Linked DNA regions of Homo sapiens: region 2 is linked to region 1. The links come from fine-mapping of genetic effects on plasma protein levels. Region 1 holds a variant in brackets. A gene starts in the other region. All regions are shown on their forward strands.

The links. PIP is the chance, under the fine-mapping model, that this variant and not a neighbour inherited with it causes the effect. Protein levels are from antibody-based Olink assays in UK Biobank. Linkage for the fine-mapping came from a reference panel and not from the study's own genotypes, which makes the PIPs less certain.
Region 2: MB starts here. The variant in region 1 is fine-mapped to the plasma level of the MB protein (UK Biobank, PIP 0.99).

What each region holds. Positions count from the first base shown.
Region 1 is chr14:54,762,683-54,775,006 of GRCh38, forward strand. SAMD4A (sterile alpha motif domain containing 4A) reads left to right here. Exons shown (of 13, transcript NM_015589.6): 8 at 1,773-1,858; 9 at 7,422-7,540; 10 at 12,252-12,324. Among named protein-coding and RNA genes, the nearest start is that of SAMD4A-AS1, 81 kb to the left of the region's middle. RefSeq lists enhancers at 10,310-11,509, 10,793-11,721, 11,595-11,644. The variant C/T (reference allele first, on the strand shown) is at 5,882.
Region 2 is chr22:35,611,036-35,623,359 of GRCh38, forward strand. MB (myoglobin) reads right to left here and starts at 6,294. Exons shown (of 3, transcript NM_005368.3): 1 at 6,128-6,294; 2 at 1-71. The coding sequence starts at 6,222. RefSeq lists a silencer at 1,005-1,054 and enhancers at 11,033-11,548, 12,207-12,324.

The DNA.
Region 1 (12,324 bases):
TAACCCCAGTTAACACTCAGCATACACAATTCAAATTAACAACATGGTGGAAAGTGGAAAACCACCCTCCCCCAACCCCAAACCCTGCCATCCTCATTCCCAGGGATAGTCACTATTAAGTTTTGGGATATCCTTTCAGAAACTTCATCATCATACATAAGCACATGAATATTCACTTTTTTTTTTTTTTGAGATGGAGTCTCGCTCTGTCACGCAGGCTGGAGTGCAGTGGCGCGATCTAGGCTTACTGCAAGCTCCACCTCCCAGGTTCATGCCATTCTCCTGCCTCAGCCTCCCGAGTAATTGGGACTACAGGCGCCCGCCACCACGCCTGGCTAATTTTTTGTATTTTTTAGTAGAGACGGGGTTTCACCGTGTTAGCTAGGATGGTCTCGATCTCCTGACCTCGTGATCTGCCCGCCTCAGCCTCCCAAAGTGCTGAGATTACAGGCATGAGCCACCGCGCCCAGCCGAATATTCACTTTTATACACACGCAGGCCTTATTTACATTCTTTTCTACAGGCTGGTGGGTTTAAAAAAAAATACTATAGCCGGACACGGTGGCTCATGCCTGTAATCCCGGCACTTTGGGAGGCCAAAGTGAATCACTTGAGCCCAGGAGTTCAAGACCAGCCTCGGCAACATAGTGAGACCCTGTCTCTCAAAAACAAAATAATAAAATTTAAAAAGTATATATACTTACAATATTTCTATCAGTACAAATAGCGCCATCTCAAAGTTTTTTTTAAAGATGGCATACTATTCCACTGTATGCATAAACCGTAATGTATTTAACAAAGTCCCAATTAATAGGCAGTGAGGTAGTTTACAAGGTTTTGTTATGACAAACAATGTTATACTGAAAGTGTATGTGCAAAGGCAAGAAATAAATGGGATTGTGTGACCAATCAGCCATGCAGGGTTAGGGACAGGGAGGAATCAAGTATGATGCCAGGTTTCAAGCTTGGTCTCCTTGAGTGTCAGACATTTTTACTCTCTGGCTGACTCCTTTTGTCCACCCATCTCCACTGTGGCCCTGTACACATGACTAAGAAAGTCGGGGAATCGTCACCTCTACAATGAGACCAGAATGGGCCACAGTAACATGGCCGTGAGAAACCTAGTGCGTGTGTATACTCTACCCGCAGACTAACTCTGTTCCATCCTATTTAGCACTGACTTGAGTGTGTAGGTGAGCCTGCGCCTGTGTGTGCATAAATGTGCATATCACTCTGAGAAAGCAACCCTCTGAGGAGTGAGTAGCAGGCCTCCTGCACATGTGCACACCCACACACCTCCCCGTCTCCAGGAGGTGCCAGCTCGTTCCTCCAAACACAAACGCCGCTGTCTCTGCACCTGGCGAGGGGTGTGCGCTCATTCATAAAATCACGGAGGCTGCTCTCTGACAGTGTCAGGGTCTTGGATACTTCTGAAGCCCCTCACACAGAGCCACTTTCAAAGACCAAGCTCAGGACGCCACTATTCACTGCTGTGTTCTTCCTCTTATTGCAGTGTCTTATTGCAGAAGGCTTCATATAGAATGGCATGACTGGAATTAACCCAAGGGGCTTCTCGAGACAAGGGCTCCCACGGTGACCCAGCCTTTGACTTCTGTGGAATGAGGAGCCTCTTGGCCTTTTTTGTGAGCCTTACATAAAGCCACAGACACACATACCTCTCAGAGTGTTGGACCTGAAGGGAAATGAGAGTCAGGTCCCAGAGATTAGAAAGGGGTGCATTTTTCTAATTCATCTTTTCTTTTTAATTACAGTGTGCACACAGCTCTTGGTCTCCAGACCTGATGAGGAAAATATAAGTTCCTATTTACAGCTCATAGACAAGTGTCTAATTCATGAGGTGAGTAGTGACAGGTTTTACAAAACCATTTTTTTTTTATTGCTTAGAAATGGTTCTCAGAGTTTCTGTGATGTGATCATTTTAGCCTCCAACAACTTGTTTTTGAGTGGTGGACAGTTATTAATAATAGGTTGGGCAGAACTAGGCTATGACAGCCTCAAACCCAAACACAGCTTGAACATTACTTTGGTGTCCAAAGATTTGCCCAGACTGAGTGTTCTGATGTGCAGTGAACGCCTGCAACGACTTCTGGCTGGGGAAGCAGCCCCGGGTGGCCAAGCCTCAGAGGGTAACACATGAGCCCTGCTGCTTAGCCCTGGGCATTGTCAGGTCTTTTAAAAATCTTGTGTTGAACTCTTGCCTTTTAGCTCAGGGAACTGGAGAGAGGAAGGGAGAAAGAGAGCCCATAAAGAAATAATGAATGTGTATATGTGTGTGTGTGTTTGGGCTTGCGATTGTTGTAGGAATCGTATTTGCCACATATCCTTTTGGAGGAGGCCTGAGGCAGGCTGCAGGTGTGCCTACTGGACCCTCAGGCACAGTCTTCATATACAGAGTGAGATAGACCCTTTGGCATGGCGGGGCTAGGCAGCCGTCAGCACTGGTGGCTGTCCCTAAGGGACATGTAGGGAGAGGGAGTTGCACCTCAGACCTAAAACTCCAGTGGCTCCTTGGGCACCCCTCCCTCCCCACAAAGAGCTACAGCAGCAAGGCCTAGACTAGAGAAAACTTGGGACCAGATAAACCTAGGATGGTGAAGTCTTTTTGTAGGATTTCGATGTGAGAATAAGATAGTAAGGGGGCCGGGGTGGTGGGTCACACCTGTAATCCCCACACTTTGGGAGGCCGAGGTGGGAGGATCACTCGAGGCCAGGAGCTTGAGACCTGCCTGGGAAACATATCAAGACCCTGTCACTACGAAAAAAAAAAAAAAAAGCCAGGTGTGGTGGCGCACACCTGTAATCCCAGCTACTCGGGAGGCCAAGGTGGGAGGATGGATGGCTTGAGCCCAGGTGGCCAAGGCTACAGTGAGCTATGATCCTATCACTGCACTCCAGCAAGAGCAACACAGTGAGACTTGTCTCGGGGAAAAAAAAAAATAGTAAAGGCCCCAGGCCTCCTCACCTTTGCTGCATGGGCAGCCAGTACTCCAGGAGTCCAGTAGGGTCCGGTGAAGGGAGACGCCCAGCACAGCGGCCAGGCCCCTTCTCCACTTCCCTCTCATGTTCTCACCCTTCCAGCTGTCACATGGGCCCTGTGCTATCGAAGTTCTCACGGCCCTCACCCACTACCCACACTTCACATACAAGGGTACAGTCCCCCTCTGGGATTCCATCCCAGCTCCCCCTTCCCCACTTCCCCAAACCCTCATTTTTGCAGTTTCTCCTCTTGGCCGTATGGATTCTTATGTGCCCAAGCGGCTCTGGCCAAAGTTGTCAGTGTGACTACAGTGACCAGCCGCCTAGGTTGGGGGCTCAGACACGCCATCCTCTGAAATGTTTAACTATACCAAAGTACTAGACTTTTCACTGAAAAAAAAATGGTTTTTTCCCTCTTTAATGGCTTCCCTAGAGCACCCAGGCATTGTCAAAAGCCCGTACTGAAGGCTTATTTGTGACTTTGTTTCAGGGACAAGGCCTTCTCCCCACAAGCCTTGACTAATCCTTTTCTATTTCGAATCCTGACACTGGACTCGTTTTGGCCAGGAAAAAGCGACAAAGGAAGAGAAAGCAAGAACACAGTGAAGAATGTTACAACTCGTCCATTCCCTAGATACTTACTGAGCACCTAGGCAGGTTACAGTAGTGAGAGAATTAGGCAGGTTACAGTAGTGAGAGAAGGGGTGAGACAGAAAGAAACAGGCCATCACAGCCATGATGAGAAAGCCTCTGATAAGGTCATCCCTGAGTGCCCTGGAGCACAGAGGAGCAGCAGCAGCGGGCACCAAACCTGGAGCCAGAACAGGGCATTTCCGTGGAGGAACCCTCTCCACCCTGAGACCTGAAAGGCAAGCGAGAGTCCTGGTGGTACAGACTCGGTTCGTAAGGAGGCAGAAGAGAGTGATGTCTGCAGGGCTCCGTGTTTTGTTGAGAAGTAGGACATTTGTGGGTGGCTTGGGGCAGACGGAATGGGGAGGATTTCAGCCTCTGATAAAAGCACACCGGAACTCTGCTTCCTCTCCCACGCCTGCTCTCAGCATTGATATTGGAGGACAAGGTACTGTCCACCTTGCCTCAAGACAGCTGAGCCCATGAGACAGAAATCGTGAGTCCTCCAGCTACCTGTGCCAAACAATCCACAGGCTTCCTAATTGTCCCTCGGCAGCCCCGAAACTCTGGCCTGACGCTTCCTGCTTGCCTGCCATCCTGCATGTCCTCCCTTGGTACCCTGGCTCTGGTTTTGTTTTTTCCCCTTGACCTCCGTGCAGCCCCAGGTGATCTCCTCTGGTTGCCCAGAGGGGCCTCTCGTGGCTGGGGGCCCCGGTCAGGAAGGAGCTGGTGAGGTGTCTGCTTGCTAAGTTCATGTCAGGATGGAGGGGCCTGCGTGCTGCTTTGGAAGGGAAAATGTTGTTCAGGGCTTTTTATGATTTTACTTTGAGAGAGAGGAAAAGCTGTCTGAATAATTTTCCACAGCCTCCGGTTATTCTGTGTGGGTAGAACACGCCCTGCCTGTGAGGCCCCGTGAAGGCGCACAGCCTCCATCCTGGAAGAAGTTTCACCCGGGCACAGAGAGACAGGACGCCCCTTCATAGCCCGGACACGCTGTTCCTTAGCTGGCTGGGAGCAGGGAAGGTATTGAGTGGGCCAGGACACCTCCCTTCCTTCCCGGGATGGAGGGACCGAGTCCCCAGAGTCATGAATGGAAGGAGAGGAAAGTTCTGAATTTTACTTCTGAGACCAGTCACTTTGACTCCTGAATTATAATCCCAGGCCTCTGGGCACTTCCCTGTGTCTTGAGGTGGCTCTGAGAAGATGAGCTCTTGCCGCTTTATGAACCTTTTCATCCAGCCACATATGCTGGGACACCATAGCCATCTTCCTCCAGACAGATGCATTGGTCTAGGCCTGAGAGGGCCAGAACTCTGGAGTGGTGACTAGGGGTGCCTGGGCAGTTGCTGGGCATGAAGCCTTCCCTTCCCCTCCAGGCCCCTTGGGAAGCTGCTCCCCAGCCCAACCTGGGGCTGCCAGCGGAGGGGGCTGCAGTGAGATTTTGGGCATCATAGCCAATGCAGATCCCCCATAACTGAGCACTCCCCTGTAGGCCAGGAACCAGTGTTCAGAAACTCCTGAAGCCAGCCACAACCGAGCACCACATCCCCAGCTGAGAACCGGCCCCCACTCTCACTCAGCACTGCTAATGGGCTGGCTCCCATCTGCAGCCCTGAAGGAAAGGAGCCCGCTGCCCATTGAGGTGCTCAGGGAATGCGCCGACCTCCCCAGGAAGGCGCCAACATTCCCACCTTCTTGGATGCTGTTTGCCACCAGGGAAGATGTCATGTCTGTAATGATGTCTTAGGAAGCACATCCATGAAATGAGCCCTTTACTCCGTTGTCACTTGGAAACTCAGGCCAGTTGTCCTTCAGGCTGGCACCAGACCAGCTCAGTATTATAGTTTAGAGACCTTGAAGTCATTTGCTGTGTGCTATTGGAGCTCAAGGTCATGTTGAATACTTAACGCGATGAACAGCCGTATACCACCACCAAACGGCCGGTCTGTGCAGTCCAAAACAAAACCCCAGTGTGACACCTGTGAGTGGCATCTATTTGAACCGTTATTAAGAGCGAGGCACGTTCCAGGTATTCTAAGTGTTGTTCATGTGTTATTTCATTCTCACAACATCCTTTTGAGGGAGATATTATTATCCTCAGTTTCTAGGAGGCACTGAGTCTTGGGTAGAGGGGCATGCGTAAAGGCGTGCAGGGATTCGAGCCCTGCCCATCTGCATCCAGAGCCTTCCTCTGGCCCACAACTCTCCTCCCCAGGTCACCCTGACCAGCATGCCCACATGTGTCCTCACACAA[C/T]ATGTGGCTGAATAAGCCAGTCAAAAGCAGAAATGATCCCCTCTCGCTGTTAGTCCAGCAGAAACGCTTGCCTTTTGCCCAGTTTCAGAGGTACTCGTGTGTAGCTGGACATGCAGGGAGCATCACCAACCAATGAGAGGGACTGTGGAGGAGAGCCACGCCCTCGCCTCCTAGCCCACCTTGATGCATATTCTTAATGGCATCTGGCTAAGGTCACCCGGGAAGAAGGGGTTTGTAAGTCCTCAATGACGTTTCTGCCACATGATTAACATCCTTCTGCTTTTGTCCACAGAGTTCTCCTGGTATTTAGGTCCTTAAAGATTCAGCATCACTGGGAGACAACTAAGCTGTCATTTTTTTTCTCCATTTAAGGAATCTGTTTCCTTTATGGGAACTAGTCATTTAGTCTGTTACTGAGTAATATTTTATGACTACTTAAAGGAATTCATGCCCTATTGACAAAACTGCTTCGGAAACTTCTCTCCCTCCTTGTTACTGTGAATCAATCAAATCACATGGATTTCCCACAGCACGTGTTCTAAGTTACAGTTCTAGTCACTTGGCAGGGGATTCATATGTGACGTGGGGTCCTCACCATCTAGAACACCTCATGTTCATGCTCTACCTGCAGCAGAATTACCAGGGCACTTGGTACAAACACAAACTCTCTAGACATCCCCTTCAGATCTACTAAATCAGGCTCTGGGCATGTGGAAGGGAGCCCAGGTATCTGAATTTTGACTGTCTCCTTGGGTGATTCTAATATATCATGAATCTGAGAGTTCCTGCCTTGGAGACTCCTAACCCACATAAAGTCCTTTCCTAGTCTGTGGCAAGTACAAAGGCTAAACGCAAAAGGAAATATAACATAGGTAAGAGTTTGTTACAAGGCAGCAGGCAAAACACACACACCAGTTTTGCTAGAAAAGAGTTCTGCAGGCATCAGACCTACATACTTCCCTAAACTTTAGAGAAGGTTTAAGTCAGGACTGGTACACTGGAATTTTTGTAAGGCAAGAGACCCATTAACTGGAGATGTCTCAGCAAAGCCCTGAAACACAGAGAATATAGTCCATTCTCTGACACCCTGTAGACCACTCTAGGGTGCCCACACACCATCAAGCAGATTGATTTTTGGAGTGGTTGAGAATTTTCATTGATTATGAAAATGCAGGGGGCCTGCAAAAGCCAGAGTATTCAACAATCAATTTTGCAATTCATTCTTGGTTAATAAATAGAGTCTGGAGTGGAGTCAGGAGGGAGGGGGAATGTGGATATGGATCTGCCAGAAATGTCACCAAAAATGAGGGTTGTCAACAGTTTGATGCGTGTACCTTATCACGCACCTCCAATGTCAGATAACTTAAATTTTCAAAATAGGGCAGCTCCCAAATTAAACTGACTACGTTTGGACCAGGTTAGAAACAGGTGAAGAAAAGGCAACTGCAGAGACTCCAATGTTTTCCCCTTATTAATTGCATGTTTCTCCCTCTAATGCCAGGCTGCGTCACCCATTTAAAAGTCCTGTTTGTTTTTGCAGGCATTTACAGAGACACAGAAAAAAAGATTGTTGTCATGGAAACAGCAGGTGCAGAAGCTCTTTCGGTCTTTCCCTCGGAAAACCCTTCTAGACATATCAGGATATCGACAGCAAAGAAAGTATGTTGGGATTTCATTCTTTGTAATGCGTAGTGGTTCCCCTGGCGCCTTGTTGCCTACCTCGGTTCCTGGGGCAGGAATATGGCAGGGCACCATTCCTTGTTCACGAAGATGCCCTGTGGCGAGTTCCAAATTGCATTGCTTAAACAGGTGGGGCTGGGAAAAGGCTGTGAGAGTGAGCATTCCCAGGCGAAGAGCTGAATGTGAGCTTTTGTAACACAGTTTGCATTGTCAAAATGATGGTAATAGTCCGGATGGGTATCAGAGGGGAGAGTGGGTATGATTTAACAAATGCAGGCAAAACACAGGATGGCTTACCCACAAAAGGGGGATCTGAAAGGATAAAAATGGGTTGTTCTATCAATCAGCACCTTAAGTGGTAGTGTGATTTTTTTCCCCCTTCGTGCTGTAGACAAGCTAATTATAGTTGGTGGCAGGGTGAAGAGCCCAGTGCTAGTCTATTTTGGTCTGCAGTCTCATAGTGGAGCAGTACAATTCTTGATTTTTCCATAGTACTTCAGCTTCTTGCACGCAGTTAAAAATAAGCCTGGTTGTACTTTAGAACCCATTACCTTAATATAGTTTTAAATTGAGGAATCCAATTACATATTAAAGATGAACTGCAGTGACAATTTGTGGGAGAAATTAAGGGTAGAGGAAGGGTTAAGCCTTAAACAATGATAGGGAATTGTTGGGACATAAGGGAATGAGAATGTAAACATCCTGAAAAATTAACATTCTATTTTACACTTTTAAAACATGAGCAGATAATTTCTTCACTTGCACCTGAAAGGGTCTGAATTCATTTCATTTCTCGGTGCATGTATAGAAGCTCTCTGCCCGTGGTGTTAAAATTTTGGGCATTTATTTGCGTAAGCGTGCCTTAAAACATCACTATTTTGGATTTAAGGGAGATAAGGCCAGTTGAAGTTTGTGAAAAGACTTCATGAAAGATTAATTTTAACACTGAAGTGTGATCACATTCCAGCATATATAACGGTTATTTATTAAACAAACATTTATTTAGCACTTACATATGCCAAGTGGTATCCAAGCACTTTAAGAATATTAATACATTTAATCCTCATGACAACCATGTGAGGTAGAGCTGCTGTTGTTAACCCCATTTACAGACAAGTTCATAGGCAGCAGCATTGGGGATTTGAACCAGGCAGGCTGGCACCAGCTCCAGCTCCATGCTTTTAACCCTATGGAAGCCAGGCAACTCTCATGGTCTCAGGATGATGAGCAGAAAAGATTGTTCAGGCAAAGCGACACTCTTCAGGACCAGTTCCCTGGCCCCAAGCCCTCTGGGGTTGCCAACCCTTGTGGGTTGGACTAGACTACCTCTTTGCCCTGAGGATTCCCGATGGCCCAGATGAAAGGCAAGGTCTGCTTCCTTGGCCTCCTGCCCTGGGGCCTACCCCCATCCCAAGTGGCTTTTCTCTGAGAGCAGCAATACTTTTCCCAGGTGAATAGAAAAGGTTCCAGACTCCTCTTGCAACACCAGGCCCTTGGGAGACAAGTTCCAAGAGGAAGAAGGCATTCGGAGGTTGGAGATGAAGATGGGGCGGCTCTTTGCTGCTCCTCCCAAAGTCCCACCCTGGCCTCTGTCAGCCCTGTGTTGTCATTGGTCCACATCCGAGAGCCTTCTGGAGGTGGAGCAGGGGACATGAACCTTGACCTCTCCAGGGTGTTTGTTAGTAACACTTGGATTGGGCTAACCCAAGGTTTGCCAGGTTGGAGTCCTAATGGACCCCTTTTAATTGATTAGATAAGAATGAATCGCTTGTGGATGTTCAACTGGATGTTACTATAAGGCTGGAAAATGTTTTATACTCATAAGTATTTCCTCTGGGATCTTTTTGTGCTATTAATTTGCTTTGAAGACCTGTTTCTCCAATAATACAAAGGTAACTGCAACCCAACCCCTGCTTGAATTATCACAAATCCCAAATTAATTGGTTCTTATTAATGTTACTTTATCAAAGACTTTTCATGCATTTCAACATTTCAGTGTAATGAAATCAGATTTAGAAAGGTAAGGCAAGAGAATGAGAAAGGAAAACTTGCTTTTGTCACTTTGTTCTCTCCCCAGAAAGCATTGATGATTTCATTAAGCCTAGCGATCTTAAGTAACCCAAGCATTCACTCTGGTTGCCAGCAGTGGCAACCCTCTGCAAAGCTGGCTTTGTAATAACCCTCGAAGGGTCCCATCAGGAGAGAGAAAGATGGCCTAGCCAAATTCTCCCCTCATCACGTCCTACTCCCCTCCCCTATACAGCTGAGTCCTAAGAGTCCCTGGATCCCTCCTTTCTCCAGTGACTATAAGTATCCCATAACAGAGTCCTCTTCCCACATTATATTGCTTAAGAATTCAGTCTTGCCTTCCTGGAAACACAAATCATTTTAGCATCACTCATTGACTCTGTATTTTGCATATGAAATAACTTTTTAAAAATCCAACCAAAAAGGAAAGTGAGAAAACGCTATCCACGCTAAATAAGGAAAAATCATAGCAGAATACTGAATCATCTACCAGGTGGCCAAAATTCCGACTTCAGAACTCAAAGGACTAGTTTTCGTCATTAAAAACAAACAAACAAAAAAAAAAAACACTCGGCCCTTGTCTCTACCTCACGTAGTCAGATTGTCCTTCCTCCAAAGGAGGTCTCATCATGTGAAACTTATTCTACCCCTCCTGGCCCTGAGTTCTTCCTTCAAACCAAAAAATCTGAAGCCTTCGTAAAAATGAAAACGAAATTTTTAAAAGGGAAAATGGGAGAAAAAAGGAAGAAAGGCCAAGACAAAGATACCAAGAACCTGTGAGTGTCCTCCTCACCACATTCAGATGAGCTTCTGACCAGAATCTAGAACTCCTTCCTTGGCCACCAAAGCCTGGAAGTAGAAAGGCACAAGCCCAGAATTCTCCTTCCTGCCACTTCTCCCCTTAGGAAATTTAAGAATTCTGGGGAGAAGAGAAACATTTTCTGAGATCTGCACTGCTGGCTCAGATGCCCCTCCCCCTACATACAGGCACAGCTCTCTTTCTCAGGAAATGACTGTTCTGCAGGCCCCTATCACCCTCAACTGGTTAAACTACGTCAGCCCTGCTTCCCGGAGTCTCCCCACAGGCTTGGTACAAACCTCCCCTGTGTCGCTGGAAAAGCAGATCTCTTCCATCTTGTGGCCACTGGAGGTAAAACATTTTGACTTCAACATCCGTGAATGACTACAGCTGACTCTTCTTGGAAAGAATGTGCTGGTTCCTGAAACCCTGCCGGCTGCTGTATAACCTCCCGGACCTGAGGCGTGTCAGAGAGGATGCGTTCTTCAGTGCTGAGGTCACCCAACCCAACGGCAGCGCCGGCATCTGCACGTGATGCTAAGGGCTCTGGCAGCCTCCCTGCCCGGACCCAGGAGAAGCATGGACCTGCCCTGGCCCTTATGCAGCCGACTTTGCAGGGAGGGCCTGTGAAGTGAAGGCAGTCTGTGTCCTAGGTCCAGAACACTTGCAAACATCATCTCCGACCTTATATCCCTCGCCCCACAGGTGGCATCAGCTCTCCCATTTGAGGATGCGTCATGATGGCAGAGACTCATTGGTTCATTCATTCAACTGCATTCACTGTGCAGAAACTGATTCAGGCACCGGACATGCAGGATGGATGAGGACAGACATGGAGCTTACATCCTGGTGGGCCTCACAGGCTTCTCCAAGTCCGCCACACAGACAGGCTGAGCAGAAACAATGATAGGATTAAAGAAGGGAGCCCTGGGACAGGAGTCAGACCAGTTGTGACCCTGACTCTGCTGTTTTCTTGCTATGTGGCCTCTCAAAAGCATGTGAGTGTTCAAGACCTGTGTCCTCATCTGCAGCAGCATGGGTTGGAGAAGATGCGGTAGGGAGGCGCAAGGCGGCAGGCAGAGTGCTGGTGAACCTGCTGAGCCTGCGTGCCAGCGCTGCCCCCTGCTGGCTGTGTGACCTGTGCACAAGGATTACGCGCTGTTTTACTTCTCCAGCTACAAAGGAGAGAGCACCTACTTCATAGGGTTGTTGCAAGGATCGAAAAATAATGTCGAAGTCCCAGGAAGTTCCATGTGATACCGCCTCTCAGATGTTAGCTGCTGTTTTAATTATAGTTATTTGCTGGCACACAGCTCCCTGTAGGCTTCATAACTGTCAAAATGTGAGCAGAGGCGGGGTGCAGTGGCTCACGCCTGTAATCCCAGCACTTTGAGAGGCCGAGGCAGGAGGATCACTTGAGCTCAGGAGTTCCAGACCAGCCTGGGCAACATGGTAGACCCTGTCTCCACCAAAAATATAAAAATCTGTAGTCCCAACTACTCAAGAGGCTGAGTTGGGAAGATCGCTTGAGCCTGAAAAGTTGAGACCAGCCTGGGCGACATAGTGAGACTCCATCTCTACCAAAAAAAAAAAGTTAGCTGGGCATGGTGGCACATGCCTGTAGTCCCAGCTACTCCAGAGGCTGAGATAGGAGGATCACCTGAGCCCAGGAGGTCAAGGCTGCAGTGAGCCTAGATCTCACTACTGCACTCCAACCTGGGTAACAGAGTGAGACCCTGACTCAAAAAAAAAAAAAAAAAAAAAATGAGGAGACCTCCAAGGCGACATCCCTTGGGAAGCCTGTGGCTTAAAAAGGGCTGAATAACGACTGATATTCTCTTCCTTCTCTCTTGGCTCTCACAGTCGAGGCTTTGGGCAATCCAACTCCCTCCCGACGGCTGGCTCTGTGGGCGGTGGCATGGGCAGACGGAACCCG
Region 2 (12,324 bases), not on the chromosome of region 1:
TCTCGTCCTCTGACTTCAGGTGCTTGAACTTGTCAAACTTCTCCAGAGTCTCTGGGTGACCCTTAAAGAGCCTGTGGGCACAGGGAAGGCTGGAGTCGGCATGGGAGGTGCGGTGTGAGGTCTGGGGGCAGCCAGACTAGAGTTCAAGTTTAGCTCCCTGTCTTCCCAGCTGTGTGACCTTGGGCCATTCACTTCACCTCTCTGTGCCTCAGCTTCCTCATATAAGGGATGGGGATAACTTGTCCCTACTTGAAGGATTAAGTGAGATAGTGTGTGCTATGTACCAACAGGGTGTCTGGCACATAGTGAGTGTCATATAATTCCCATTTTACAGATGTGGAAACCGAGGTTCTGAGGCGTAAAGTCACCAGCTCACTATTGCAGGGGTGCTGTCCAGAGAAGCCAGGCTGGAATGAGGTCTGAGTGACCAAAACAGCAGTTCTAGTCCACGCTGCGACCATCTCTGCAGCTTCCTGCCCAGGGATTGTCCTTCAGCTGCTTAAATACCTCTAGCTACAGGAGGCTCACTCCTACCTGTGAGGGCCATTCCACTCCAGAGCAATCCTCACACTCAGAAACCTCTTGCTTGTTTTGAGCCCAAGCTGTGACTCTCTGAACCTCCCAGTCCCCTCACTGTGCAGATGACGAAGGGTCCTGGTGGGAGCAACTCAACCCAGCCCTGAGACAGGCACCCACTCCTGCCAGGCACTCAGTGAGGTGCCCCAGAGGCCTCTGCTGGGACTCTGAGCAGCCACCTCCAGCTTTAGACCTCGGTCCTTCCTGCCCACCTCCAACTTTAGACCTTGGTCCTTCCTGCCCACCTCCAGCTTTAGACCTCAGTCCTTCCTGCCCACCTCCAGCTTTAGACCTCAGTCCTTCCTGCTGTGAGCAGGTGGGTGCTGGTTAAAGGGAGTCAGACCTGCCCTCTGGGTAGGAGTGAGTTTCCGCCTTTTACTCATGGAAGACCACAGAGATAAGTGGCCAAGGTCACTTGGCTAGCTAGCGGCAGAGCCCAGACCTAAACCCAAAATGGAACAGTTTCATAACTCCCACCCTTTCCCTTGTGCCACAGCTGAAATGTTTGGCACGGGCAACCCTGTCTGCCCAGGGCTCTCTCTCCTGTCTAATGGTTTCAGTTCCTTGAAAAGCTCCTCTTTTATGATACCCAGGCTCTGTGACATCCTTGTAAAAGTACACAGTATGTATTGTGGCCACACTCCAGTTTGCGCCCTGAGCCACCATGCCCAGAAGTTGTCACAAGGAAGCACCTGATCCCCGTAGTCTCCATCCCAGGGTTTTATGAGGAGGGTATTTCACAACCAGGATGCTGAGCTCCTCAACCTGAAAATGAGTTCATGGTTTTTTTGTTTTTTGTTTTTCTTTTTTGAGATGGAATCTGGCTCTGTTGCCCAGGCTGGAGTGCAGTGGTGCAATCTCTGCTCACCGCAACCTCCACCTCCTGGGTTTGAGCAATTCTCAGAATTCTCCATGTTAGGCAGGATGGTCTCGATCTCCTGACCTTGTGATCCGCCTGCCTCAGCCTCCCAAAGTGCTGGGATTACAGGCGCCCAGCCATATTAACTGATTTTAAAATCCTGATGGGGTAGACGCCATTTTGCAGAGGAAGAAACAGAGGCACCGAAAGACTAACTAGCTGGGGATTTAACCCAGGCAGTCTGGCTTCATGTCTATACTCTTGATGACTATTCGGACTTTGTTATTGTTACACAGAGATATTTACAGGCAAACTGATACCTACATGGACATGTATCAACACCTCACACGTGTACATGCATGCAGGCTCTCACAGATGTGTGTGCACACTCACATATGGGCCTGCACACTCACACAGAGGTACACATAAATATATCCCAGCACACGCCATACTCACCTGCACACACACACAGAGACACGCACAAGCCTGAACCACATACACTCCCTTCCCCCATGTTGGGCATGGTCTGCCGCCGTGCCCAACATTGCCACCTCGCTCCAGGACCTTATCCAAATCCTCGTGCGTCACTGACGGCTTGTCTCTGACACCTTTCATCCAAGGGTCCCTGAGCTCCTGACTATTATTATCTGGCGACAATGATCCTTGAACTCCCGCCTGACAGATGCAAGACCTGGCATGCACAGGCGATGGTCAGAGGTCAGGACGCTGAAAGCAGACTGTCTGAGGCAGAGCAGGGCCAAGAATTTGGGCCACAAGGCAGCTGGGGGTCTCAGACATTTTGGGGCCTGCCCCTGCCCTCTGATATCTAGGGAAGAGAACATGGGACTGACAGTTACGGAAGCTGAGTTCCGGTCCCAGTTCTGGCGCCAATGTGCTCTGTGATGTTGAAGTCACTTAGCCTCTCTGGATCATTGCTCATCCATATGTAAACCAAAAGGGTCTAGACCCGCCAATGCCTTTCTTTCCACTCAACACCAGACAGCCAGGGAGAGAGCTCATATTTACTTTATTAATATTTTTTTGAGACACGGTATTGCTCTGTTGCCCAGGCTGGAGTGCAGTGGTGTGATCTTGGCTCACTGGAGCCTCAATCTCCTGGGCCCAAGTGATCCTCCTACCTCAGCCTCCCGCGTAGCTGGGACTACAGGCACACACCACCACGCCCAGCTAATTTTGTTTATTTTTTGTAGAGAAGGGGGGTCTCACTATGTGGCTCAGGCTGGTCTCGAACTCCTGGACTCAAGCGATTCCCCGATCCTGCCTCCCAAAGTGCTGGGATTATAGGCCTGAGCCACCCCACCCCACCCCATATTTACTTTAAACAGCAGAGCAGAATCGGGCTAATTTGTCTCCCCGCAAGATCATTCCGGCACCACACAGCTGCCTGCCTCCTGTGGGCCCAGGCCTTGCAGCTAGGAGCCCCCCAGGCAGCCACAGAAGGCCATTCTCCTGGATTTGCCTGATCCGGAAAATGAACAGATGAAAGCCCCTCAGCCTGTGGAAATGGACGGAGGGCGTTTGCTCTAGTATTTCAGAAAGCCCCGCTGGCCTGTGTTTCCAGCTTCAACCCTGCTGTCAGTGGGCCTGGTTCATCAGACAGATCTTCAGTCCAAGTCAGAGAGAAGGGAGGCCATTTTCCTGCTGTTCTCTGAACTGAGGCCCAATTGGACACTCACATGGAACATGGAGCACATTGTCAGATCCATGAACACCCCTCTGGCTCTACTAGAATAAAAGAACCAGAGCGTGGGTGGCAGCCCGTCTTGCGTGTGGCAAGGTCATGGGGCAGTATAGCATAGTGGTCAAGAGCAAGGATTCTGGGCCGGGCTCATTGGCTTGTAATCCCAGCACTTTGGGAGGCCAAGGCGGGCAGATCACCTGAGGTCAGGAGTTCGAGACCAGCCTGGCCAACATGGCGAAACCTAGTCTCTACTAAAAATACAAAAATTAGCCAGGCATGGTGGCATGCACCTGTAATCCCAGCAAGACTCCATCTCAAAAAAAAAAAAAAGGAGCAAGGATTCTGGATCCAAGCTGCCTGAATTTGAATTCCAGCTCCTTTCTTACTTGCTGTGTGACTTGGCGTAAGTTACTTAACCTCTCTGTTAAATGTGGTGATCATAATCATATCTACCTCATAAGATTGTTGTCAGGCTTCAGTGAGTGAAACACTTAAACAGAGCCCAGCAATCAGTATGTGCTGAATAAATGGTTGCTGTCTTTCTCCTCCTCATCATCTCTACCATTATCATTATCATTATCATTATCATCACCATCACCCAGGAATTTTTGGTCCTGCCTGTGGCTGCCATTAACCGGTGGAGACTCTCAGGCCCAGTTCCTCCCTGTAATGAGAAGTAGTGACCACCACTGGTGATTTTCAAACATTTTATGACCTTGAAATCCTTTGTTCCCCCCGCTCCCCAAAACAGCCAAAGTAAATAAAACAAAAAAGGTTTGAGTAAAGAAAGGAAAAACAGGGGTGTGGAGCCCACTCAGCAGCCCCCTCCCTTCCGAAGCCCCACTCCTGGAGCCAGAATCTCCAAGTGACCTTCCAGCTTCTGTGTTCTAGAATTTTATGTTTGTGTACGTGCAGTGAAGGCCTCAGTGTTTTACAGACTGGGCTTCATGGAATTTGCCCTCTTTTACAATCAGAAGATTGGAGACATAACCTTTCAAGGTCAGTTAGAAAATCCAGAGTCAGTATCTAGAACAAAGTCAAGATGCCAACTCTCACGGGTGGCATTTGCAGTCCTGGGCATGAGCCTCCTCCACCCTGCCCCCAGGGAGGCCATCCTCCCTGTACCCCAAATACTGAGAGGGCAGAACCAGCTGGCACAGTCTCTGCATGTCCCACAACCTAAGACGTGACAGGGCACCAGGCCTCTGGGACCTTTCAGGGACCAGCAACCCTAGGCATTATGTCTTATCCCTGGCTCCCGGCCCCCGGCAAACCTCCGTGATCCTCCCTGATGATGCAACACCCTGAGTCTCTTTCAAGACGTACAAGTCACTGCCTTAGGTCTGGCAGCTCCCAAATCACCTTGGAAAGACCTCTGCTCTGCAAACTCTGGTCTCCTACCTCCACGCCTGACTGTCCTGCCTCCTCGCCAAAGGCAAAAGTGCATCAAGGACTCAGAGAATTCTAGGGCATGAGCGTGGGACGGGATCTCGGAGACCATGGAAGACAATCCCTTCGCTCAACCAGCAGAGAAATAAGGCCCAGAGGTGGAGAGACTTGTCCAAGGTCACATGGCATATCTGTGGCCCAGGAGTTGATGTCAATTTGTGTGTGTGTGTTGGTCGGGGGAGCACTTTGTGCAATCCAACAGGGCCTGTTGCAGCCAGATGACAGGGACAGGAGAAGAAAGACATAAACACACTACGATGCCATTACAGTCAACAGAAAACTCAACTCTTCTTCCTCAAGTGTTTCTAGCACGGATCACCAACGGCTCAAATTTTAGATAACGGAGCTTCCAGGACCAGCCATGCTCCCGAGGTAGACGGAAGCTGGAAATGGGTAAAGCCCAAGGGAGACCCAAAGGACGACGGAGTGGAAGAGGAAAATTGGCTCTGGCTCACAAATAAGGAGAAATTAATCTGCAAATTAAAGTGCCAAAGACAATCCATTCACTTGTGGCAACCCCGGCGCCCACTTCCTTCCTCCCGTTGGCAGAAACGTTGATTCTTAACCTATTAGACTTCTGAGGGAACCAGCTCAGAATGGTGAGGGAAGGGGCCAAGAGAAGAGTGTATCACCTTTGGGATAGAAGGCAACGAGGAGATGAGCTTCTATGTACAAACCACAGCCACCCTCTATTTACAAACCTCAGAATTTTGTTTTCTTTGGTGTATTCTGGAATCCCTTGTGGTAGAAGGCAGGATATACTTGCAGACCACATCATTCAGACCTCTCAAACTAGAGACATACTCAACATCGAAGGTCACTAATGAGCCTCTATCTTCTGTTCTCTAATTGCAATGCTTTGAAAGGTCCCTAGCCTGGGCTTCATCAGTAATAGCTACTAACATTTCTAGGACTCAGTATATGCCAGGAACCATGCCAGGCCTCTTGCATGCATTATTTTATTTAATTCTCACATCTCCTCTAGGATATAGATATTAGGATATCCCCTCACTGTACAGGAGAGGAAATTGAGGCTCCGAGAGGTTGAGTACTTTCCCAAAGGTCACCCAGTGGCTCAGTGGCAGAGCCAAGTCTAGAACCAGATCTGTCTCCCCTTGAAGAGCATGTCTTAACCTTGACACTTTAAGAGCATTTAATGAGCTGTGACTCTGGAAATGTCCTCCCCTTCTCAGTCCCTTTTTGTCCTCATCCTGTAAGAGAGGTGGCTGTACAAAATCTCTCAGGACCCTTGTTAACTCTGACTGTCTATAATTCTAAAATTCTTCCTGGTGGACTCTGAGCATCCTAGGTTTGATTCTCATGCTTCCTCCAGCTGCTGACATCAGCCTGAAATGGCTCCTTTCCCTCTCCTGAGTCCAATCCCTGACACTTAAAAGCAAAGAAAAAGCAAGTGACCGTTCTAACACCCTTAACTAATGCAGCCAACTGACCTACCCCACGTGCAAACTTTCCACCTTGCAGCTGAACACCCTTGATCTTAGGGTGTGGGTGGCAGGGGCAATGGAATCTCTTCCTTTTACCTGATGAGGACTTCCTGCCCATGGCCTGGGATGTCAGCCTCCACCTTCCCCCAGACGTTCAGCACCAACTGCCATTCCCCGTCGCTGAGCCCCATGGCGCAGTCTGAAGAAGACAAAAAGAGCAAGTATGGGCTCACTGGGTGTCCTGGCCCCAACAGCTGGGGTTTGAGGCTGCCTGGTCCCAAGGGCGTTTTTATACCTTCTGGGATGCTTGACAAAGATCGCTCAATGGCTCGCTGTCCCCCTCCCCTGCCCTCCTTCACTTTCTCTCTCTCATCCAGGGAGGGTCTAATCTTTTCCTTTCTCTAGCCCTCACATGGGAAGCTATTTTAGGGCAGGTGCCATTGTGGCGAGGCAGGACAGCTCAGGCCACAGGGGGTGGGGTGGTTGTGCGTGTGGAAAGAAGGGGAGGAGGTTGGGCACTGTCTGGACTCTCATAGCCGACAGAAAGGGCACCACAGAAGCCGACGCCAGCAGCCTGAAACCCAACGCTCCCTGCGGTCAGCCCTCCCAAGAGGACCTGTCATGTTTCTAAGCTTGGCCACCAGGTGCCCCGGCTGGCCCCAGGACAGTCCTGGCCATTCGCAACCTCTCACGCACCTTCTGCCCCTTTGCCAGAGACCCCTCACCCAGCCAGAAGTGACAGAAAGGAACCGGATGGTTTTGTGCTTATAGCCAGGTGGTCCCAGGCAAGTCCACAATCTCTTAGAGAACTCCTGTTTTCATGACCCTGCTCAAAGGTTTCCCTCTGAAAAGTTTTTCTTGACATACTCCTTTGAGACACCACTAATTGCTTCCTCCTTTCCTTTCTTTGTGTAAGTTCCTGTTGCATTGCTTCCCAAAGGGCATCCTATTTCCTGGTTTTCATGCCATCTTCTCCATTAGGATAATAGCAGCCAGCACTCACAAGAGACTTTGCTGGGTGCCAGGCCCTGTCCCAAACACTTGGCATTTGGTAACTCATTTAATCCCCGCAAGACCTCCCAATGTGATAGGTACTGACATTATCCCTATTTAATTGAGAGAAAGTAGGGAAACATCACTGATGTACAACTAGTCGCTGGCAGAGTTGGGATTTGAACTCAGGAAGCCACGCCCCTTTCTTTGCAGTTTTCAGGAGGGCAGGAGCTCTGTTTTATTAACCCACGTATCTCTTGGGCCTCACATGGTGCTTTGTGCCAAGTTTGAACTGAATAAATGTTTATTGAGTAAATGGGTGGATGGTTTTGCAAAGAAAGAGAGTGGAGGATGATTAGCCTTATCTTACATCCATGCATCCTCCTTCAATCCATTCAGGTATTCAACCATCTATCCATTTATCCACTTGTCCATCCAGTTACTCATCCATCCATCCATCTGTCATCCCTTAATTCATCCATCCATCATCTCTTTGTCTATCCATGCATTCACTCATCTATCCATCCACCACCCATCCATCCAACATCTATCAATCCCTCCATCTATCCGACATCCCTTAATTCATCTATTCATCTATCCATCATCTCTTTGTCTATCCAGGCATTCATTCATCTATCCATCCACCCATCCATCCAAAATCCACCAGTTCCTCCATCTATCCATCTATCCATCCATCCATGTGTTCATCCATCCATCCCTCAATTCATTCATCCACCCATCATCCCTCCATTCATCCATCCACCCATCCCCTCATTCATCCATTCATTATCCCTCCATTCATCATCCCTCCCTCCATCCATCTATCCATCCATCACCCACCCATCCCTCCATCTATCTATCTGTTCCTCCATCCCTCCATCCATCCATCCACCCATTCCCTCATTCATCCACTCATTATCCCTCCATTCATCATCCCCCCTCCATCCATCTATCCATCCATCATCCACCCATCCCTCCATCTATCCTTCTATCCATCTGTAACTCCACCCATCCATCCATCCCTCTCACAGTGATAGAGCACCTACTGTGTGTCAGACACTGCTACATGCTGAGGATAACAAAATCAAATAAAACACCTTCCTGTGTTCAAGGAACTCAGAGTCTTTTTAGGGAGATAACTAAGAGGAATGAAAATACAGTACAGTTTGTTTAGTGCTATGATCAAGGTAGGCACAGGCCCTTCCTTCCATCTGCATAAGACTATACAGTTTACAAAGTGGCTGCTTGGCAAGATTACATCTAATCTTTACAACACCTCTGTGAGGTAGCGAGCACCACCCCGCTTTACAGCTGTGGGAGATGAGATTCAGAAAGGATAAGCCAGTGTTTGGGCCATCCTGGGTCTGCACTGGATTTGTCAGTAATGACTGCCCCACCTACACAGCTTTTTGAAGATAACTGCCCTGCCCCAATCTTGCTGAGGTGCAGGTGTAGCCAGTCATGTTCTGGGACACACAGTTCTCCCGCAAACCTGCTGCCAGTCACAGCCAAGCTGAGAAAGCCAATGTCAGGGCTCCATCTGAATAGTCAGCATCTACTAGCTCTGCCAGTCAGATCCCAGCTTCAGAATGTGAACAGAGATGTTTGGTAAGAATTGGACAAATAATAGGAAATGTAGCTAGAAAAAGAGTTAAATTCAAAGAATCCCCAAACTTGGAGTTCCCCAGTGCAACTTTGGGTCAGAACGCCCTCTGTGTGGGTCTCTAAAGCCTGGCTGGTGACCATTCTAGGATTGCCATGAGCCGCCACTCCCTGGAGGAGCCTTGTGTCTCCATTCAGTGAGTCCTGTGTACTGAGTCGGCTGACTCCTAGCGACCAAAAGGGTCAGAGGCACCGGCTGCACCTCTGGCGCCCCTTCCCTAGTGACCATTCCAGAAGTCAACCCCAAATGCTAGGCCAGCCGACCTCCAAAGGCCCATCTCTTTAGCAGTGGAAGAAGCAGTAACAAAATAAGTAGCTAAAATGCCATGGGGGGCCGGGCGTGGTGGCTCACGCCTGTAATCCCAGCAATTTGGGAGGCTGAGGTGGGTGGATCACAAGGTCAAGAGATCGAGACTATCCTGGCTAACATGTTCAAGCCCTGTCTCTACTAAAAATACAAAAATTAGCTGGGCATGGTGGCACGAACCTGTAGTCCCAGCTACTTGGGAGGCTGAGGCAGGAGAATCACTTGAACCCGGGAGGCAGAGGTTGCAGTGAGCCGAGATCGCTGTACTCCAGCCTGGCAACAGAGCGAGCCTCCATCTCAAAAAGAAAAAAAGAAGCCATGGGGATGCCAAAGGGGATCTCATTCATTCATTCAGTCAGTCAGTCATCTGTTTGTTCCTTTGTTCATTCATTCATTTGAAAGCCCATTACTGAGGCCCCAGTCTGTGCCAGGCCCAGCCTCAGAAGGAAAGACAACTCTGAGAGGGTCTGCCCCGGTCTCAGACTCTCAGCAGTTTGACCCTTACTGCTGGTCACTCGCTGGAGGTGAGTCCAGGGTGTGAGAGAGGAGGGCAGAAAGAAGGAGATGGCATTGAGCTGTGCCACATCTGACCTGGGGCCCCCTGCCTGGTGCGCTGGGGAAGGCCAAGAGGCAGATCTGAGACTCCTGGAGATTGAGACGCAATGTGCGGTTTTCAAATGCTCTCTGGCCTGTGCCCTCCCGAGAGTGTCAGAACACCCCTGAGGGTGCGGGGCAGGGCAGGGCTGATTACTACCCGAATCCCAGCTCTTCTCCCGTCTCTGGCCTCCTGAGTTGTCTGGGGATGGCCTGAGCATTTAAAATCTCATCAACCCATTACTGATGCTGAAATGTTTAATATGAAGCTATCACCCGCTTGGCAAGCGCCCCCATTAACTGGCATGCTCATGGAAACCTGTAGCTTTGAAGTTGATGGACCTTTTAAGTTTTACCATTTAAGCTAATGGGAAGGCACCGACATCTGTTTGTACTCACACATCTCTACAACAGAGCAGCGTTACCTCACAGTTGCTATGGCTACCTGGAGTCACCAGCTCTGTTTGGGGGCTATTATTATCCCTGTGACAGCCTTCATTATGGCCAGGGCAGAGAAGCTGCAGACACATGATAGGAAAGCCAGGCTGCCTTTGTGTGCAAAACTTTCTACAGCCTTACACGCTCATGCTACACACACGCACACACACGCACGAATGCAGGGCACATTAGTCTGATACCCAGTGGGGCAAAACTGGATCCCACCAAGTCAGACCTCCTCTTTTTCCCTTTCATATCACAGGATCCTTTGAATCCAAAACTGAGACTTGTAGAATCATCCTCAAGGCTCCCAATTCTGGAATCTTGAGATCCCAGAATTAAAATTCTAGAGTGTCAAAGTCTTCAACTTTTCAGCACCGGAGAAACTTGGGTTCTAGATTCCAGACTTATAGAGAGCTAGAAGCAGAGAAATCTAGAATTATAGGGCCATAGTATCTTGTGACTAAAAGAGGCCTTCAACGGTATTTTGTCCAATTTCCCACTAAACATAGTTTTCCCTACAGATCATCATCTGGCATCTGCTTGAATACTCCTGGGAGTGGTGAGCTCACTACCTAAAGCTTTAAAAATCCTTTTTTATGTCGAACCAAAAGATGCCTCCATGTCACGTGCACTTCCTTGCGGCAGCTCCGCCTGCTCCTTGGGGATATAGAGGCCCAGCTGAGTCTGCCTCACAAGAGAAGGAGCAGGCTCACCCAAGACTTTTCTTGTCCAGACTGAACATCCCAGGACTTCCACTGAGCACCCTCCCCAGGCAAGGCAAGTCGGGGGCCTCAGTCTGGTGGAGAAAGACGGGCTCTGCCATCTTCGGTCTCCAGCCACTCTCACCTCTGGTCACATGCACACAAAGAGAACGCTATAGCAAAGGGGATTCCAGCACCCACCTGCACAGGTTTGAGCCCCTCAGGCAGCTGTGCACCTGGCCCACAGTTTTTATGGTCAGAAAATCCAATCTAGGTGACCTAGGAATTTGCTAGCCCTTGGACAGCTGACAATTCCCTTTGGTAAATCTGGGCTTAAGACACCACCAAGGGAGATCAAAGATGTGGCAAGAAGGAGAACTCTGGCTCCTCAAAGCCAGGACTCCCCACGATCTTCACTACTCTCTTCCTCCTCCTTCTGGGAACCAGCCTTTGGAGGCCAGTCTGGGCAGTGCCTCCCTCCTGCCAGCAGGCCCTCCCACCCCACCCCCAGCTTAGCTTGTGCCTCCCTGGCAGAGTCTACCCTCCTGGACCAGCGCCAGGCCAGGGCTCAGAGCAGGGCTGAGGCCTGGGAGTTGCAGGACCTGCTCAAGGCCCTTGATGGGGCAGCAGAACCCCCAAGCTTGCTCCAGACTCCCAGGAACCCACCCACCAGGGCTGCTCCTCTCCAGCCCCTCAGCATCCATCATACTGACCACAGCTCCCCTTCTCCCCAGCTGTCCTCGCAGAGCCTCCAGCCAAGCGGCCAGGGCTGGGGGTGGGGAGAGGTGTCTTATAGCAGCCGGGGAGAGGCACAGGGAACTAAAAATACAGTTTACATGGCAAGGCTCCTCCTCTCCCTGCAGGCCCAGAGGGGCTTATTGGAGGAGGGCTGGCAGGGACACAACATCCTAATCCCTTAGTCAACAGGTGTGGCCTGGGACACCGACCTGCCTCCCCCCTCCACCCTCCCCAGCCTTGGAGGCTCCGAGTGGCTCCTCCAGCTCCACCATCCACCTGTCACCTGGACAGAGACCAGCCCCGCCTCCACAGTCACCTAACCCCACATCCACCCATCCTCCCCTTCCTTCAAGGCCCATTGCATAGGAACGGCTCCCCTGCCAGGACTCCTCCCACCCCGCTCTACCCATTCCCAGCAGATGTGCCCTCTTCCCCACTCTGGCTCCAGCATGGGTGCAGCCTTCTCATCTCTCTTGCTTTGGGGTGCACCTGTCTGGACTGGCTTCTCCCCATTTCTACCCTGTGAGTGCCTCAGAGGCAGGAATATAAAAGCCACAAACTCATATTGTACTTAGTGCACACCAGGGACACCCCTCCTCCCAGCAGCCCTTTCTTTTGCAGGAGACACTTTTACAAGCGTCACTTTACACTTGAGAGAACTGAGGCACAGAGAAGTTAAGTAACTTACCCAGAGTCACACAGCGAGGAAATACCAAGCCCAAGATTGGGACCCAGGTAGTCTGGCTTCAGAGTCTCTGCTTCATGGCTAAGAACTGGTCTAATTTGGAGTCCTTCCCCCTCACTCTCTCACCTGCTCTACAGTACCTAGCAAAGGACCAGGCCAACATGCTCTTTGA